2 separate regions of the Homo sapiens genome follow, and region 1 is linked to region 2. Evidence: fine-mapped expression QTL. A gene starts in region 2. The other region holds a variant in brackets. All regions are shown on one strand. Distances are between the middles of the regions. Region 1 overlaps GANC (glucosidase alpha, neutral C). Region 2 holds the start of TMEM87A (transmembrane protein 87A).

Region 1 (8,000 bases), 59 kb after region 2:
TACTATGGCAGAGTTGAATAATTGAAAAAGAGACCTCATGGCCTGCAAAGTTGAAAATATTTACTATCTGGACCTTTACCAAAAATGTTTGCCAATCCCTGCTTTAGATGGTTCTAAAGGAAAGATATGGTAGTTAAATATTTGGAAATCATTTACCCCCTTATACATAGAAGAACACACATGTTTAGAAATAAAGATTCAAAAAAAAAAAAAAACAAGCCACCTCCAGGAATTTGAAAGACTTTCTTGTGGGCGAGGTGACAGATGTATTCTGTGGGGTCTCAGAAGGTAAGCTAGGTAGGCTCTGCGAGGGGAATGTTATATACAAGGAGCAGGATTTTTGAAAAATAATAGAATGAGCTGCCTGAGGGACTCCCTGTCTTTTTAGCTATTCAGTCAAACGCCAAAAGATAAGTGATTCTAGAAAAGACCAGGGATTCTACAATACCATGTTAGCTAGATGACTCAACTGTCCCTTCCCACTCTAAACTGAACAGTTCTGTGTAGGATACAAACTATAGATCATGTTAACAAACAGGTATATTGGCTGTCAAGTCTTTCAAAGTATTAGAGAGAAGGTAGAATCTTGTCATGTTCAGCTATAGTTGCCCTTAGTTAAGAGTTGTAGCATCTGATGAATGAGAAGGAGCCCAATTGTGAACATTCACAACCTTTCCCATAGGAGTCCTGCAGGGAGGTCTTGGAATGAATTTGCCAGGCAATATATATTTCACAGACAACACAGGGCAGCATTCTTTTATTCAGCAGCAAATATTTATTGAGATCTGTCTATGGGCCAGGTACTATTCTAGATGTTTGGGATTTATTAATGAACAAAACAGACAAAATGTTGTTCCCTGTGGAACTTATACTCTAGCAGTGGAGCAGAGGACAGAGCATAGATAATAAACATAATTTTTAAAATGAGGTAGCAATGGTGACAGCTATTATATAGACATCATCAATGTAGGAGTGTCATGACCAAGGTTTACTTCCTAGGGATCTACGGACATCCTCTTCCTTTGGAATGACATGAATGAGCCTTCTGTCTTTAGAGGGCCAGAGCAAACCATGCAGAAGAATGCCATTCATCATGGCAATTGGGAGCACAGAGAGCTCCACAACATCTACGGTTTTTATCATGTAAGACATCCAAAAAGAATTAAACTGGGCTTGTGTGACCCACCTTTTGGCTGAAGGTCATTTGCTTTGTGATATAATGGCTATTCTCTACTGTTCATTTCTCTTTGTGTGTCTTTTCTGACAACTGCAATGAGTCTTAGGTAGTAGCCAATACAAGACTTTTTATTATTTCTCCCTTTGCTTCTTTTCTTTTCATGATGAACTTGATGAACTTTTAAATATTATGAAATTAATTATAACATAAAGCTTCTGCCTTGATAGGAGCCATTAATAAGTGGCACTCACTGGCCACTACCTCAAACTTTTATTGATGCAAGCAGTATATAAATATGTGAATGAAGGTAATTAAAACAAGTGTTTTAAGATTTCACAGATATCTAAATACAGCAAATCTTATATTCACACTGGAGGAGCAATATTTAGAACACAGACACACAGCTTCAATAAGTATATTTTAAAAATGTAAAGCCTTCCTTAAGTACTTAGCTTCCTCAATAAAGGTGGTAAAATTATCTTTCATTTGCCAACTACATCCAAAAGACGTGGCAGACACTTGACCTCATGTATACCCATGGTTCTTTGTTATTTTCAAATTGTGACTGTATTCCTGTGGCCCTCTTACCTATTGGTATTTTCCAATGGGATCTTTTGGCTAAATATAAGCATAGTTTTCAGATTGTGTGTGTTTGCCTCTTTAACAGCCTGTTGCAGTAACTGTAGACTGCTTTAGTTAGTGAGCTGTCTTATATAGGTCAGGACCAGTCATTTAACCTCTCTGAAGCTCAGTTTTTCGTACCAATGAAAACTGTCTGTCTCAGAGGTTGTTACGGAGATTATATGAGAAAATTATATTAAATGCCTAGCAATAGTAAGCACCAAAGAAATGCTAGATGATTGTTTATTATTATTTCATTGCTATTGTTAACCAAAGAAAATTTTCCATTCTTTTAATAGGGGAATTTAGAGTAATTTCATTATACCATGAAAATTATTTGATGGATTTATTTTAATATTTTCCATTTCATGCTCCTGCCTACTGTTTGCTTTTTGTATGTTAGATAGCTTATTGGGGATGTCTGTACAAATCCAATCATCTCTTTGAAATTTTTCTTGTTTGGTGATATAGCAAATGGCTACTGCAGAAGGACTGATAAAACGATCTAAAGGGAAGGAGAGACCCTTTGTTCTTACACGTTCTTTCTTTGCTGGATCACAAAAGTATGGTAAGGAATGGCTCATATCAGACTTAAAAACACATTAGCAACTTTTTTTTTAACCATTTATAGAATGTGATGTTACTGTGCTGATGCCTTCCTTTTCCTTTTTTTTTTTTTTTTTTTTTTCATTTGTTTGTTTGAAACAGAGTCTCGCTTTGTCACCCAGGCTGGAGTGCAGTGGCACAGTCATGACTCACTGCAGCATTGACCACCTGGGCTCAAGCAATCCTCCCACCGAAGCCTCATGAGTAGCTGGGATTACGGGTGCACACCACCACACCCAGCTAATTTATATATGTATATGTATTTTTTGGTAGAGACAGGGTTTCACCATGTTGCCCAGGCTAGTCTCGAACTCCTGGACTCAAGCGATCTGCCCACCTTGGCCTCCCAAAGTGTTGTGATTACAGGTGTGAACCACCACACTCAGCTGATGCCTTCCTTTTCAATAGCCATTGGTCAGGCCTTTGATTGTAGACAGTGGTATGCCCTAAAGTGTGGATTTTGTCCTATAAGACAGAATAAACAAATTTTAGTCATTTGATACTTGTTTCTCACTGAAGAAATGGCCACTTCGTTGTTGGGAGAGTAACTTCTAAGTATTCAGTTTGCTGGGATAGTCATCTTTGGTCCTGTCTCTTTGATTTATCAAAGCCAGGGAGATACACCTCTAACACATTCCATTAACCAACTGTTCCACTTAGAAATGTGGCTTAAAATAGACCTGGCTGTTGCGTGTGGTCAGGGTCATCTATAACTGGATGCAGTTTACCAGCTAATGCAGATCTGGTTCAACTTAACAACCCTGTGGCAGGAAGGCTATTTTAAGTCCCCTGGCCTTGCATAAGCAACGGAGAGCTTAGATCCTAGTTTAAAGAATCCAGCCCTTACTATCCTGTGGACATTATTAAGCCTCCCACTCCACCCCTGAAAACCTGGCCCTGTGGCATTCTGGAAAGGGCCAAAATATTACAATCTCAGGCAAAGATTCATGTACAGAGGTATTCAACACAGTGGTAGTCCTTGAAACAAAAGTAAGAAAGAAAATCTAAATACATAACAATAAGGGAATAGTTATAAAAGTATGGTATAGCAACATGATAGATTATCGTGAGGCTATTTATGTTTAAAAAATTTTTTTTCTTTTTTTAATTTTCATAAGGCTATTTTAAATGGTAGATTTAATTGCAT[GA/G]AAAAATGTTTTTGATATGATAAATAAAAAAAGGAACACCTAAGTGTTTATAATATTAACCTAATTTTGTATTGATATGTATTAGATGTACATATTTTCAGGATATGTGTGATAATTTGATATGTTCATATAATCAAATCAGAGTAATTGGGATATCTATCACCTTAAATATGTATCTTTTCTTTATACTAGGAACGTTTAAATTATTCTCTTTTAGCTTTTTTAAAATGCACACAATCAAGGCTAACTATAGTCACCTTACTGATCTATCAAACATCAAGTCTTATTTCTTATTATCTCAATTTTATAAAAGATTAATGGAAGATAGTAATTTAAATAAATAAGTGGGTAGATAGGCAGACAGTTAAATATAAGAAAATGTAATACCTTGGTGATTTTGAGTGATTTTCATTTTTTTCTTTTATCTAACTTTATTTTACAAATTGTCTACAAGTATCATTTTTAATCACAAAAAAAAGTATTTTTAATGAAAACATTTACCAGCAACAGTTAAAAAAAGATAACAGAAGATTTAAATATTAGGTTATTGTTGATCTCTTATGTTGGTCCATTGCTTAGCCTGCAGTACTCTGTGTGAAGCTATCAGCTTTGCTTCACTGTGTAGCAAGACATTACAGGAAACACTACTTTGTTAAGTCATATGCGATGATCAATAGCCATAGAGAACTTCTGACTAAACAATAGTATGAGACATGAAAATATCTGCATGTTTATGTGAGCTTTCTTTCTTGATGAGAATGTCTCCATACGGATTTCAAAATCATTATGTAAATACGTACATATCTCGCTTGAAGTCAAGAGGAAATTAGAATACTTTTTTAAAAGAACAATCCCTGGAAAATATTTTTTTTGAGCCAGGCACAGTGGCTCAAACCTGTAATCCCAGCACTTTGGGAGGCCGAGGCGGGTGGATCACCTGAGGTCAGGAGTTCAAGACTAGCCTGATCAACATGGTGAAACCCTGTCTCTACTAAAAAAAAAAAAAAAAAAAATAGCTGCGTGGTAGCGCGCACCTGTAATCCCAGCTACTAGGGAGGCTGAGGCAGGAGAATCGCTTGAACCTGGGAGGCAGGGGTTGCAGTGAGCAGAGATCGTGCCATTGCACTCCAGCCTGGGCAACAAGAGCAAAACTCTGTCTCAAAAAATATATATATATATATTTTTTTTGGTCACGAGCAGTGGCTCATGTCTGTAATCCCAGTACTTTTCTGAGGCAGGTGGGCAGATCACTTGAGGTTAGGAGTTTGAGACCAGCCTGGGCAACATGGTGAAACCCTGTCTCTACTAAAAATACGAAAATGAGCCAGGCATAGTGGCACATGCCTGTAGTCCCAGCTATTCAGGAGGCTGAGGCAGGAGAATTTCTTGCAACTGGGAAGTGGAAGTTGCAGTGAGCCAAGATTGCACCACTGCAGTCCAGCCTGGGCCACAGAGTGAAACTCCATCTCAAAAAAAAAAAGAATTTTTTTTTTCCTGGCCATAGGGCGGCCTAAAATTTCTATGAAAGATTAAAACAAAAATAGCTACCAAAACTATTTTGGTAGAAGATAGACAAAAATGCTTCAGAAGTAGTATATATTTCATAAAATAAGACTTTCCCTTTTATGGCTGTCTTTGGTGGTATATAATCTCTCATCACAAACTCTTAGCAACTCTTCAGTAAATAAGAACAAGAACACTGGCTTAGGCATCAGAGTGCCTGGGCTCAAATCCTGCCTCTACCACTTAATAACTGTGTAACTCTGGGTAGATTATGCATCCATTGCTTGCTATACTTCCCTCATCTATAAAATTGAGTTTATAATAGTGTTTATCTGATAGGATTGTTGTGATTATTAAGTAGGATAATACCAGCAAACTATTCGGCATAACACCTGGCTCAGTATGGGTTAAATAAATGTTAATTATTGTTATTGCTACTGTTATTATGTCTCCCCTTTAAGGCCTGTAACACTTCTCTCAAATTTTTTAGGGTTTTCTTTGGAAGCAGGGGCTGGTGGAGGTGGGAGGAAATAGGTACATAGATCAATTGAACAGAGTAGAGAATCCAGAGTATCCAACACATATGTGATCAATTGCTTTGCAACAAAGTTTCCAAGGCAATTTAATGGAGAAATTACAATTTCTTTTCAGTAAATGGTTCTGAAACAACTGGATATCTGTGTGGGGAAAAAAATGAAACTACACCCCTACCTCATACCATATTCAAAATTAAACTAAAAAATTAACTCATTTTAAAAGCTAAAAATACAACCTAACTTCTGGAAAAAAACATAGAATAAAATCTTTTTTTTTTTTTTGAGATGGAGTCTCACTCTGTTGCCCAGGCTGGAATGCAATGGCATCATCTCAGATCACTGCAACCTCCACCTCCCGGGTTCAAGTGATTCTCCTGCCTCAGCCTCCTGAGTGGCTGGGATTACAGGTGCCCACCACCACACCTGGCTAACTTTTACATTTTTAGTAGAGACAGGGTTTCACCATGTTGGGCAGTCCGGTCTTAAACTCTTGACCTCAAGTGATCTGCCCTCCTCGGCTTCACAAAGTGCTGGGATTACAGGCGTGAGCCACTGCACCTGGCCAGTAGAAAATCTTTATGGCTTTGAAACAGACAAACATTTCTTAGAAAGAACACAAAAAGCATGAATCATAAAAGAAAAAAATGACAAATTAGACTTTATCAAAATTTAAAAATGTCTGCCCTTTCAAAGACATTGGTAAGAAAATGAAATGGCAAGCCACCGACTGAGGAAAAAAATATTTGAAATATACATATACAGATATATCTGCCAAAATACTTGTATCCAGAATATATAAAGAACTTTTACTACTCAATAATAATAAGAAAGACAACCTACTTTAAGAGTTGGTTTTCTGAAAAAAAAATAATAATAACAAAATAGATAGACTGCTAGCTAGACTAATAAAGAAGAAAAGAGAGAAAATCCAAATAAACACAATTAGGAATTACAAAGGAGAAAATGTAGGAGAAATGGATAAATTCCTGGACACATATACCCTCCTAAGACTGAACCAAGAAGAAATTGAATCCCTGAAAAGACTAATAACGAGCTCCAAAATTGAATGAGTAGTAAAAAGCCTACCAACCAAAAATAGCCCAGGACCAGACAGATTCACATCCCAGTTTTACCAGATGTACAAAGGAGAGCTGATACCATTTCTACTGACACTATTTCAAAAAATTGAGGAGGAAAGACTCCTCCCTAACTCATTCTATAATGCCAGCATCATCCTGATGCCAAAACCTGGCAGAGACACAAAAAAGAGAAAATTTCAAGCCAGTATCCTCGATGAACATTGATGCAAAAATCCTCAACAAAATACTGGCAGACTGAATTCAGCAGCACATCAAAAAGCTTATCCACCGTGATCAAGAAGCCTTTATCATTGGAATGCAAGGTTGGTTTAACATACCCAAGTCAATAAATGTGATTCATCACATAAACAGAACTAAAGACAAAAACCACATGATCATCTCAATAGATGCAGAAAAAGCTTTCAATAAAATTCAGCATCCCTTCTTGTTAAAAACTCTCAGCAAACTAGGTACTGAAGGAACATACCTCAAAATAATAAGAGTCATATTTGACAAATCCACAGCCCACATCATACTAAATGGGCAAAAGCTGGAAGCATTCCCCTTGAAAACTGGCACAATACAAGGATGCCGTCTGTCACCACTCCTATTCAAAATGATATTGGAAGAAGTCCTGGCCAGAGCAGTCAGGCAAGAGGAAGAAATAAAGTGCATCCAGATAGAAAGAGAGGAAGTCAAACTATTCCTATTTGCAGATGACATGACTCTGTCTAGAAAACCCCATAGTCTCAGCCCAAAAGCTCCTTAAGCTAATAAACAACTTCAGCAAAGTCTCAGGATACAAAATCAACATATAATAATCATTAGCATTTCTATACACCAACAACAGTCAAGCCTAGAGCCAAATCAGGAGCATAGTCCCATTCACAATTGCCTCAAAAAGAAGAAAATACCTAGGAATACAGCTAACCAGCGAGGTGAAAGATCTCTACAATGAGAACTACAAAACGCTGCTCAAAGAAATCAGAGATAACACAAGCAAATAGAAAAACATTCCATGCTCATGGATAGGAAAAATCAATATTGTTGAAATGGCCATACTGCCCAAAGCAATTTATAGATTCCGTGCTATTCCTGTCAAACTACCAATGACATTCTTCACAAAACTAGAAAAAACTATTTTAAAATTCATATTGAACCAAAAAAAAAAAAGAAAAAAAAAAGAGCCTGAATAACCAAGGCAGTCCTAAGCAAAAAGAACAAAGCAGGAGGCAATATGCTACCCAACCTCAAACTACTACAAGGCTGCAGTAACCAAAACAACATGATACTGGCACAAAAACAGGCATGTAGACCAATGGAACAGAAT
Region 2 (8,486 bases):
AAAGGAAAAATATACTAAAGACTCCCTACTTTATATAAATGTAATAATAAACATGACAAAAATAAACATGACTGCATTTAGGAATCTACTTTTCATTCATAACAAAAGAAGCAACCTAATTATAAGCTTCCTTTTTTTTTCTTTTAAACTGTTTTCTCAAACTAATTTTTAGATGACCAACACATTTTCAAAGGACTCTATTAGAATGTTCAAAAATTTGACCTGTTGGATAGAATTTATGGAAATGATAAAAAGCAATTGGGCTATGAACTATTCAAAATAATCCATACAGGGACAGGATTAACTAATAAAAAGCCAGTAAGAACACATCCCCCAAACAGGAGACTTGTAAGGAAATTTGGCAGCAAAAATACTGCTGTTTATGTTACAAGACAATATTTAGAACTTTAAATGAAAGGCTTTAAGAGACAATAAGGTCGGGCGCGGTGGCTCACGCCTGTAATCCCAGCACTTTGGGAGGCCGAGGCGGGTGGATCATGAGGTCAGGAGATCGAGACCATCCTGGCTAACAAGGTGAAACCCCGTCTCTACTAAAAATACAAAAAATTAGCCGGGCGCGGTGGCGGGCGCCTGTAGTCCCAGCTACTCGGGAGGCTGAGGCAGGAGAATGGCGTGAACCTGGGAAGCGGAGCTTGCAGTGAGCCGAGATTGCGCCACTGCAATCCGCAGTCCGGCCTGGGCGACAGAGCGAGACTCCGTCTCAAAAAAAAAAAAAAAAAAAAAAATGGTCCCAGCTATTCCATGGAAAGCTATATACCATCCCCCAAAAAGTACAAAATCAAAGACAACTGGTAAATATGAGAAAGCACAGAAATAACAAAGAAAAAGATAATGTTAAAGTGTCTCAGGCCGGGCACGGTGGCTCACACCTGTAATCCCAGAACTGTGGGAGGCCAAGGCAGGCAGATAACTTGAGGTCGGGAGTTCGAGACCAGCCTGGCCAATATGGTGAAACCCCCACCTCTGCTAAAAATACAAAAATTAGCCGGCGTGGTGGCACGCGCCTATAGTCCCAGCTACTCGGGAGGCTGAGGCAGAAGAATCGCTTGAACCCAGGAAGCAGAGGTTACAGTGAGCCGAGATCGTGCCACTGCATTCCAGCCTGGGCGTCACAGCAAAACTCCGTCTCAAAAAACAACAACAAAAAATAAAGTGCCTCAAATCCTCCAAAAACAATGAAATATAAACACTTCAAAATACGCAGTTAGGGCTGGGCATAGAGACTCATGCCTGTAATCCCAGCTACTCGGGAGGCTGAGGCAGGAGAATCGCTTGAACCTGGGAGGTGGAGGTTGCAGTAAGCCAAGATCGTACCACTGCACTCCAGTCTGGGTGACAGAGTGAGACACCATCTTAAAAAAAATGCAGTTGGTTTAACTTGGCAAAACACCACTAGATCAAACTACACGAGAAAAAAAGACTGGACCTAATAAAAGAATAAAACAGCAAACAGGCTGTCAAGCTATTCCAAAAGACAAGGGTTACTAGGTTACCCAGTAAACCAATCTCACAAGGCCAGTGTCAGAGTAGATTTGATCTAAATCAAATATAAGTCACTGGTCAGGAGACTGATTACATATTCATGGATACAGTATATATTCTTCAGAGAAATTCTACCTGCTGTTTTCACTCCCACTAGAATGTAAGCTCGATGAGGGAAGAACATTTTTCTATTACTTCCCCACAGTCTATGCAATAAGTAATAATTACTCACTAAACAATTGAAAAGAATAAAATTATCCAACTATGACTTAAAATTTTGCACTTCCGTGAAGACAGTATGCATAGAATCACACATCTATCATCAGGATTTTTATCCCTCATCTAGAAATAAAGCTGCCCACGATCAATCGTTCTCTAAATTAAAGCCGGTTTCAGAACTAAAAGGAAGCTTTTACTGAACACACAATGGGATACTTTAGATTCAGATACAGTCATTTTTCCACTAGACAAACTAGTTTTGTTCTACATAATCCCTATTTCTTGATAATATCTGAGCTTCCTCTTCCAAAGCAGTAAAATACTCCTTTTGTAAATAAAGGATCTACTAAATATATTCCTTCACAGCCAACGGCCTGACAAACCTAGGTCATGTTTGCAGTAAACATTTAACAAGCACACAAGAGTAAAACCTCTTTAATCTACACAGAACAGATTAAAACCACCATGCAGGGAATCAACCCCAACATAATCACAGTCATTCACTACATAACATTTCAGTAAATGAAAGACTACATATACAACGGGGGTCCCATAAAATTGTAATATCGTATTTGTACTCTACTTTCCTATGTTTAGATATACAAAAACTTACCATTGTGTTACAACCACCTATAGCATTCAGTACAGTAACATGTTATACAGGTTTATAGCCTAGGAGCAATAGGCTGTACCATACAAACTAGGCGTGTAGTGCCATCCAGTTTTAAGTATACTCTATGATGTTTGCATAATGACAAAATCACCTAAGGATGCTTTTCTCAGAAAGTATCAACTGTAAATGTAATTCGACTGAGATGTGACTGAATATTCAATGTAGTATATACAGCATATATATTAATATATACATTATATATACTAATATATAATGTCTACATAGTGTATATATGCAATGTAAACACCAGAAAAACAAGAGAAGAAAATAAAGTTCACACGAGTACTTTGAAGATGATTCAGTAAAAGGACCTTAGTAATACTAAAAATATTTATACCTAGATAATGCCAGACTATTAGATTTCAGAACTTATAAAATAGGTAATTTAAAACATTACCTATAAATTTTTAAAATTCAAATTAAAACTTCATGAAATTCAAAAACTCACACTTCAGGAAGATAGTGGTATTTCTGAAGAGGATCTTTCCAAAACTAAAATAATTTTTCCCCTGCAAACATAAAGGAAAGATAATTAGCCTCAGATGGCTTCAATTACCAAAGCATCATATAACTATCTAAGACTGCTAGAAATTCCAACTTAACTTAAATCTTTATGGGACGTACCCCTTAATCAGTTCATTCCCTTTACTCACCAATCACTGCTCAGAATAACCAATCATTTTTTCTAATGAACTATTCTGTGTGCAAATAACCAGAGTTTTATTTTCAAATCTAAAAAGACTTAACTATTAACCATTTTAGTAACAAGTAAAAACCTAACTGAACACCTGAAAATCTTCACCACTGAACAAAAGGTATAACGTTTACCATAATAAAAGCCCAAATAAGATTTGGACATTACAGTCAGTGAGCAGAGCAGAATGAAACAAAAAGGCCAACGTAGGTTTAATGGGGCTAATGCTTTTCAGCATTTCCTCCCTGCATCTGGTTTTTGTCTGCTCACAGGACTATACCTGTTACTGAAATAAGGTTTAAAATGGGTAAGGGGCAGAAAGGGTCAACCCATGTAGTTAATTATCCAAATGAAAGACTAGCCTTACCACATTAAATTTTAAGTACTATTTCTTCAATTTTAACCATTCCCATGTTAAAACACATTTCTTAAATCTCTATGCTTTCTAGTCACACAGTAAAGCTTAGAATAGCCATTCCAAAGTTGAAGCGAAGTCGAACCATCTCGTAAGCAGAATTACCCAGGGACCAAGAAGTGCAGAGGAAGAAAAAGAAAGAAAGAAATGAAGACTCCTATTTACATATCTTTCTTATCCAACCCGGGGACACTGGATTCTGTGAAACATCTGAAAGATAAACAACTCTCCGTTTGTACATCAAGTTTACATCTCAAGTCAGGCACTGAAAGTTCTGTTTTTCTGATGAGAAGCCGCTCCACCACTCCTTTCTGTTGCTGAAGTGGCCCTTACATTCCCGCTAGCCTAATCACAGAAGTGCGCGGCTTTCCACTCCAGGGAGGTGGGTCCCAGTTGGCTAGCCACACAGACCATCCCAGCAACCCCACCCCTTTTGAAGAGACTTTTGCGGAACCTTCATGGACCCCTTGGGCCGCCGTAGCCCCACCCCTTGCTCCTCTAGGTTCAGACGTTAGTGAAGTGAATACTCACCGACGGTATCGGAATGTGCCATTTGGACCGGTCGGCAGCAGCTACGGTTGCCGGTCCCGCACTGAAAAACGACAGTGGTGACGGGTGAGCTCCCAGAAGCAGAAGAATGACAGGCAACACCTGAAGCCACGCAGCCGCCGCCATCTTCACAGCCGTGGAGTGCCTACCGAAAGCATTTCACCCTCTTCCGGTTCGTCCCGCCTTCTTCCGGCTCTGCTCTAAGGGCGGGATTATCCGGGTCCTGGAAACGTCGCGGAGCTTGTTTGCTGTGCGGCGTAGCGGCCCCTCTCTCAGACAGTCGTCTGTGCGCCGTGAGACTTTGGACCTACTGCGCAGGCGTCATCCTGTTGGAACCTGGTCAGCTGGGTTAGAGAGATCGCTACATGCCAGCCTGGCCTGAGTCTTTTCTGTCTCCCAGCCGTTAAAGGTTTTAGGACCAGGCAGGCACCCCGTGCAGGATTTGGCTCTCTACTTCCGCTCGCCCCAGCCCTTCATCCCTTCTAAGTCAATGTCAGACTTTGGGGCCAGAAAGTCTGGAAAAGCCCTAAGCCTGGCTGCCCAAGTGGCGTCTAGTAGTGAGTTCTCCGGTTTGGGTGGTATTTAAGCAAAGGCTGGAATTCGGCGGTGGTGGAGTACACGCGATTCCTAGACTGGGTAGTGTAACAACCTTCAAAGGCCCCTTCTAGCCCTGAAGAGTACGATGCTGCAGTACAATCTGGCTGGAGACCTAGCCTCCAGCAAAGACCCGGCCGGCACTTCCCACCCTTAACCGAAAACGGAGACAGAGAGGGTCAGTTTTCAAAATCTGTGGCGTGACCCCGCCACTGAGATAGATCTGCAGATGCTTCGTCCCAGTCAGGGAGGCCGTCTCGGCATTTCCAGGTTCTTAACGCTCTTGATTTTTACCCTCTAGGACTCATTGCGTACACGCCCTCACCGCCGCCCAGTTTCGGTTCCTAACAAAAGCACGTTCCTCATCAGCCACCCATAATCAAGACAAATTTGCCAAATAAATCATTGTAGAAACGCTAGTTTGGGCCTGAAAAATTCCAGGAGCAAGAGTCAAGATTTGTCACTCCATGAGAATCTGGAGGGGACTCCCTTCCCAGAAACTTGACGATGAAGTACTGGTTGTAATTTTAGAAAGACACCCAATCGGCTTTTTTAAAAGATCGCCCAGGGCCCTTGTCCTGAGAGCTGGGAGCTGGTCGGAGTGACAGAGAAGCCATGGAAGCAGCAGTGAAAGAGGAAATAAGGTAAAGGCCAAGTGCTTCTGTAGCGAGTGACCCCAGGGTCCCTAGAAACAGGGAATAGTGTTTTAATTGCATTTCTTATTTGCGTATTTGGTATTTGCTGACCTTTATCTTTTCTCTCAATTCGCGGGAAGTTAGTTGATATTAATAGCCTCTCATAAAATACTTTCAGGATGGTTAAATAGGCCGGGTGCAGTGGCTCACGCAGGTAATCCCACAGCACTTTGGGAGGCTAAGGTGGGAGGATCGCTTGAGTTCAGGAGTTCGAGACCCCCTCCCCGCCCCCTCGGAGTCCCAGCTACTTGGGAGACCACTGGGAGGATGGATTTGGAGGCTGCAGTGGAGCTGTGATCTTGCCACTGCTTGGGCAACAAAGTGAGACCCTGTCTCCAAAAAAAAAGGATGGTTAAATAACATTAACAGTGGAAAAGTTGCAATCAGAACTCTTAACACGTGAATTTCAGGCATGTTGCTTTCCAAATTCATCTATAATCACCCCTTCCTATATCATCCCAGAGTTAATTCTTCGAAGCTGTAAAGAGGAAACAAAAGATTCTCCAATCTTTGTACACTTGATTAAAATAAACTGGGCCGGTTCGCTCATGCCTGTAATCCCAGCACTTTGGGAGGCCTATAGGTGGGCAGATTGCTTGAACCCAGGAGTTCAGACCAGCCTGGGCAACATGCTGAATCCCTGTCTCTACAAAAATTTTAAAGTTAGCCAGACGTGGTGATGTGGGCCTGTAGTCCCAGCTACTCAGGAGGCTGAGGCAGGAAGATAGCCTGAGCCCAGGAGGCGGCAGTTGCAGCAAGCCAAGATCGTGCCACTTCACTCCAACGTAGGAGGCAGAGCGAGATCCTGTCTCAAAAAAAATTTTTTTAATAAATTAAAATAAACGGACAAAGACTGAGTTCAGTGAAGGACAAACAGTTTTTTAGTATGGCCAAGTATATCTGCCTGGGCTTGTTTTCATAATATTTCGACGTTTGTGTTCAGTCATAGCTTTCTACATAATCATGGACATGCTGACTACAGATGCATTCGGCCACACTAGTGCATGAAAGCCGGTGTAATTTTTTTTTCTCCTTATAATCTGTAGTTGTTTTAATCAGATGGAGGCTAGTTTAAATACATATACTCAAACTTCAATATACATATATCTCATTCATGTTTTATCCCAGAAACAGCTCTTCTGGAAACTTGGTTTTAAAAAACATGGCCCCTAGTTTGTCACCTCATCTTAAAAAGCAAGAAATTCCCCTTCTACGTCTGTTCTGTTCTTATTCTAGCACCTTGCACCTCTATTAAAGCATTTGTCAGCTTGTATTGTGATTGCTGGTAAAACCCTAACTGATAGCTTGAACACAGTTCATATCTTCCTCAGAGCCCAGCTCTCAGGAAGAATATTCTGAAAATATTTTCTTGAATAAATCGGTGGGTGGGTTATGGTTCTTAGTTTGTCTGGTTGGTTGGTTTTGGTTTGTTCGTTTTGGGATGCTGTTTTGGTTTTCCTCCTTCAGATTTTACTTTTGTGGTCATAGCCTTCAGTCATTATTTCAAAAGAATATGTCCTCATAAGTGACAGTGATCTTTTCCCATTACTTTTGGAGTAATCCCAGAACCTGATGTTTTGTTGTTTACCTCAGAGGGTTTACAAAAGGCTATTGTTCTGCAACATAATGTGCTATTATGTTATACTGTGGCCGTGACACAATTTTGCATTGCAGAATAGACTCCAAAGGTTTATTTTGCATGTTCATACTGTCGTTAGAGAAGGTACAAAAGTTGGATTCACAAGCCCTGTGTGAAATAAATTTCTCAAAATGTCTTTTTATTTAGTCTTGAAGATGAAGCTGTAGATAAAAACATTTTCAGAGACTGTAACAAGATCGCATTTTACAGGTAAGGAAAATAAATATAGTAGCTAGATCAAAACATCTCTGACAGTATTTCAAAATTGATGCTTATTAAATTTTTGGAACTGATAGACTTTCCAAGGAAAGGATAATTTAATAATTAAGGAAATCATCAGACAGGAGACTCACTTTTAACTTTATACATTTACTCCTGAAGTATTTAAATTTTTCAATAAACAGCTATTTTATTTTAAAAGCCAAAATATTTTTAAACTAGTTTTAAATTTTGACGCTTTGAATAGATAACACTTTTACATGGTTCAAAAATAATATAAAGAGCTATACATTGAAAAATGTTGCTTCCACTCCTGTCCCCTTCTACCCATTCCTCATCTTGTCCCGAATAACCGAATTTCTTCATTTCTTATTTATCCTTCCAGTATTTTTTTGTAAATACATGTATTTTTATATTATTGCTTTTCTCTTTTTTTAATCACCCCTTTTTATACCAAATAGGTTTTTTTTCCTGCTTTATAGTTTGTTCTGAGGAGAAATTCATATGAGTGCATGGAGATTGTTTCTCCTTTTTACAGCTGCATAATATTCCATGGGGTAGATATACTATTAATATAATTTATTCAGTCTGTCTCTTATTGCTAGACCCTTGGGTTGTTTTTAATCTTTTGCTAAAATAGCACTACCACAATGAAGAGCTATACATAGGTCATTTTCTACACATGCAGGTGTATTTATAGGATACCTTTCTAGGAGTGAGATTACTGGGTCAAAGAGTAAATGCATTTGAAATGTGTTAACTATTACCAGATTTCCCTCCATAGGAATTATACCATTTGTACTCCTATCAACATTATATAAGATTGCCTGGCTGGGCGAGGTGGCTCACACCTGTAATCCCAGCACTTCGGGAGGCCAAGGCAGGCGGATCACCTGAGGTTGGGAGTTTGAGACCAGCCTGACCAACATGCAGAAACCCCGTCTCTACTAAAAATACAAAATTAGCCAGGCATGGTGGCGCATGCCTGTAATCCCAGCTACTTGGGAGGCTGAGGCAGGAGAATTGCTTGAACCTGGGAGGCAGAGATTGTGGTGAGCCGAGATTGTGCCATTGCACTCCAGCCTGGGCAACAAGAGTGAAACTCCGTCTAAAAAAAAAAAAAGATTGCCTGTTTCTCCAGAGCTACAAAAAATATGCCTTTAAAATCTTCATTTTATTTTATTTTTATGCATTTTTTTGAGACGGAGTCTCCCTCTGTCACCCAGGCTGGAGTGCAGTGGCGCAATCACTGCCCACCACAACCTCCACCTCCTGGGTTCAAGCGA

What was found. PIP is the estimated chance that this variant, and not a neighbour inherited with it, causes the effect. A credible set is the group of variants that fine-mapping cannot tell apart.
Region 1: its variant is the best candidate, but not a certain one, in a credible set for the expression of TMEM87A in nasal epithelium (TOPMed, PIP 0.59).

What each region holds. Positions count from the first base shown.
Region 1 is chr15:42,328,307-42,336,306 of GRCh38, forward strand. It overlaps GANC (glucosidase alpha, neutral C), which reads left to right. Exons shown (of 24, transcript NM_198141.3): 14 at 1,000-1,143; 15 at 2,270-2,366. Among named protein-coding and RNA genes, the nearest start is that of CAPN3, 27 kb to the right of the region's middle. The variant GA/G (reference allele first, on the strand shown) is at 3,552.
Region 2 is chr15:42,269,220-42,277,705 of GRCh38, forward strand. It overlaps TMEM87A (transmembrane protein 87A), which reads right to left and starts at 4,214. Exons shown (of 20, transcript NM_015497.5): 1 at 4,036-4,214; 2 at 2,844-2,904. The coding sequence starts at 4,179. GANC (glucosidase alpha, neutral C) reads left to right here and starts at 3,982. Exons shown (of 24, transcript NM_198141.3): 1 at 3,982-5,291; 2 at 7,129-7,191. The coding sequence starts at 5,263. RefSeq lists enhancers at 3,564-3,813, 3,974-4,203, 4,176-5,375.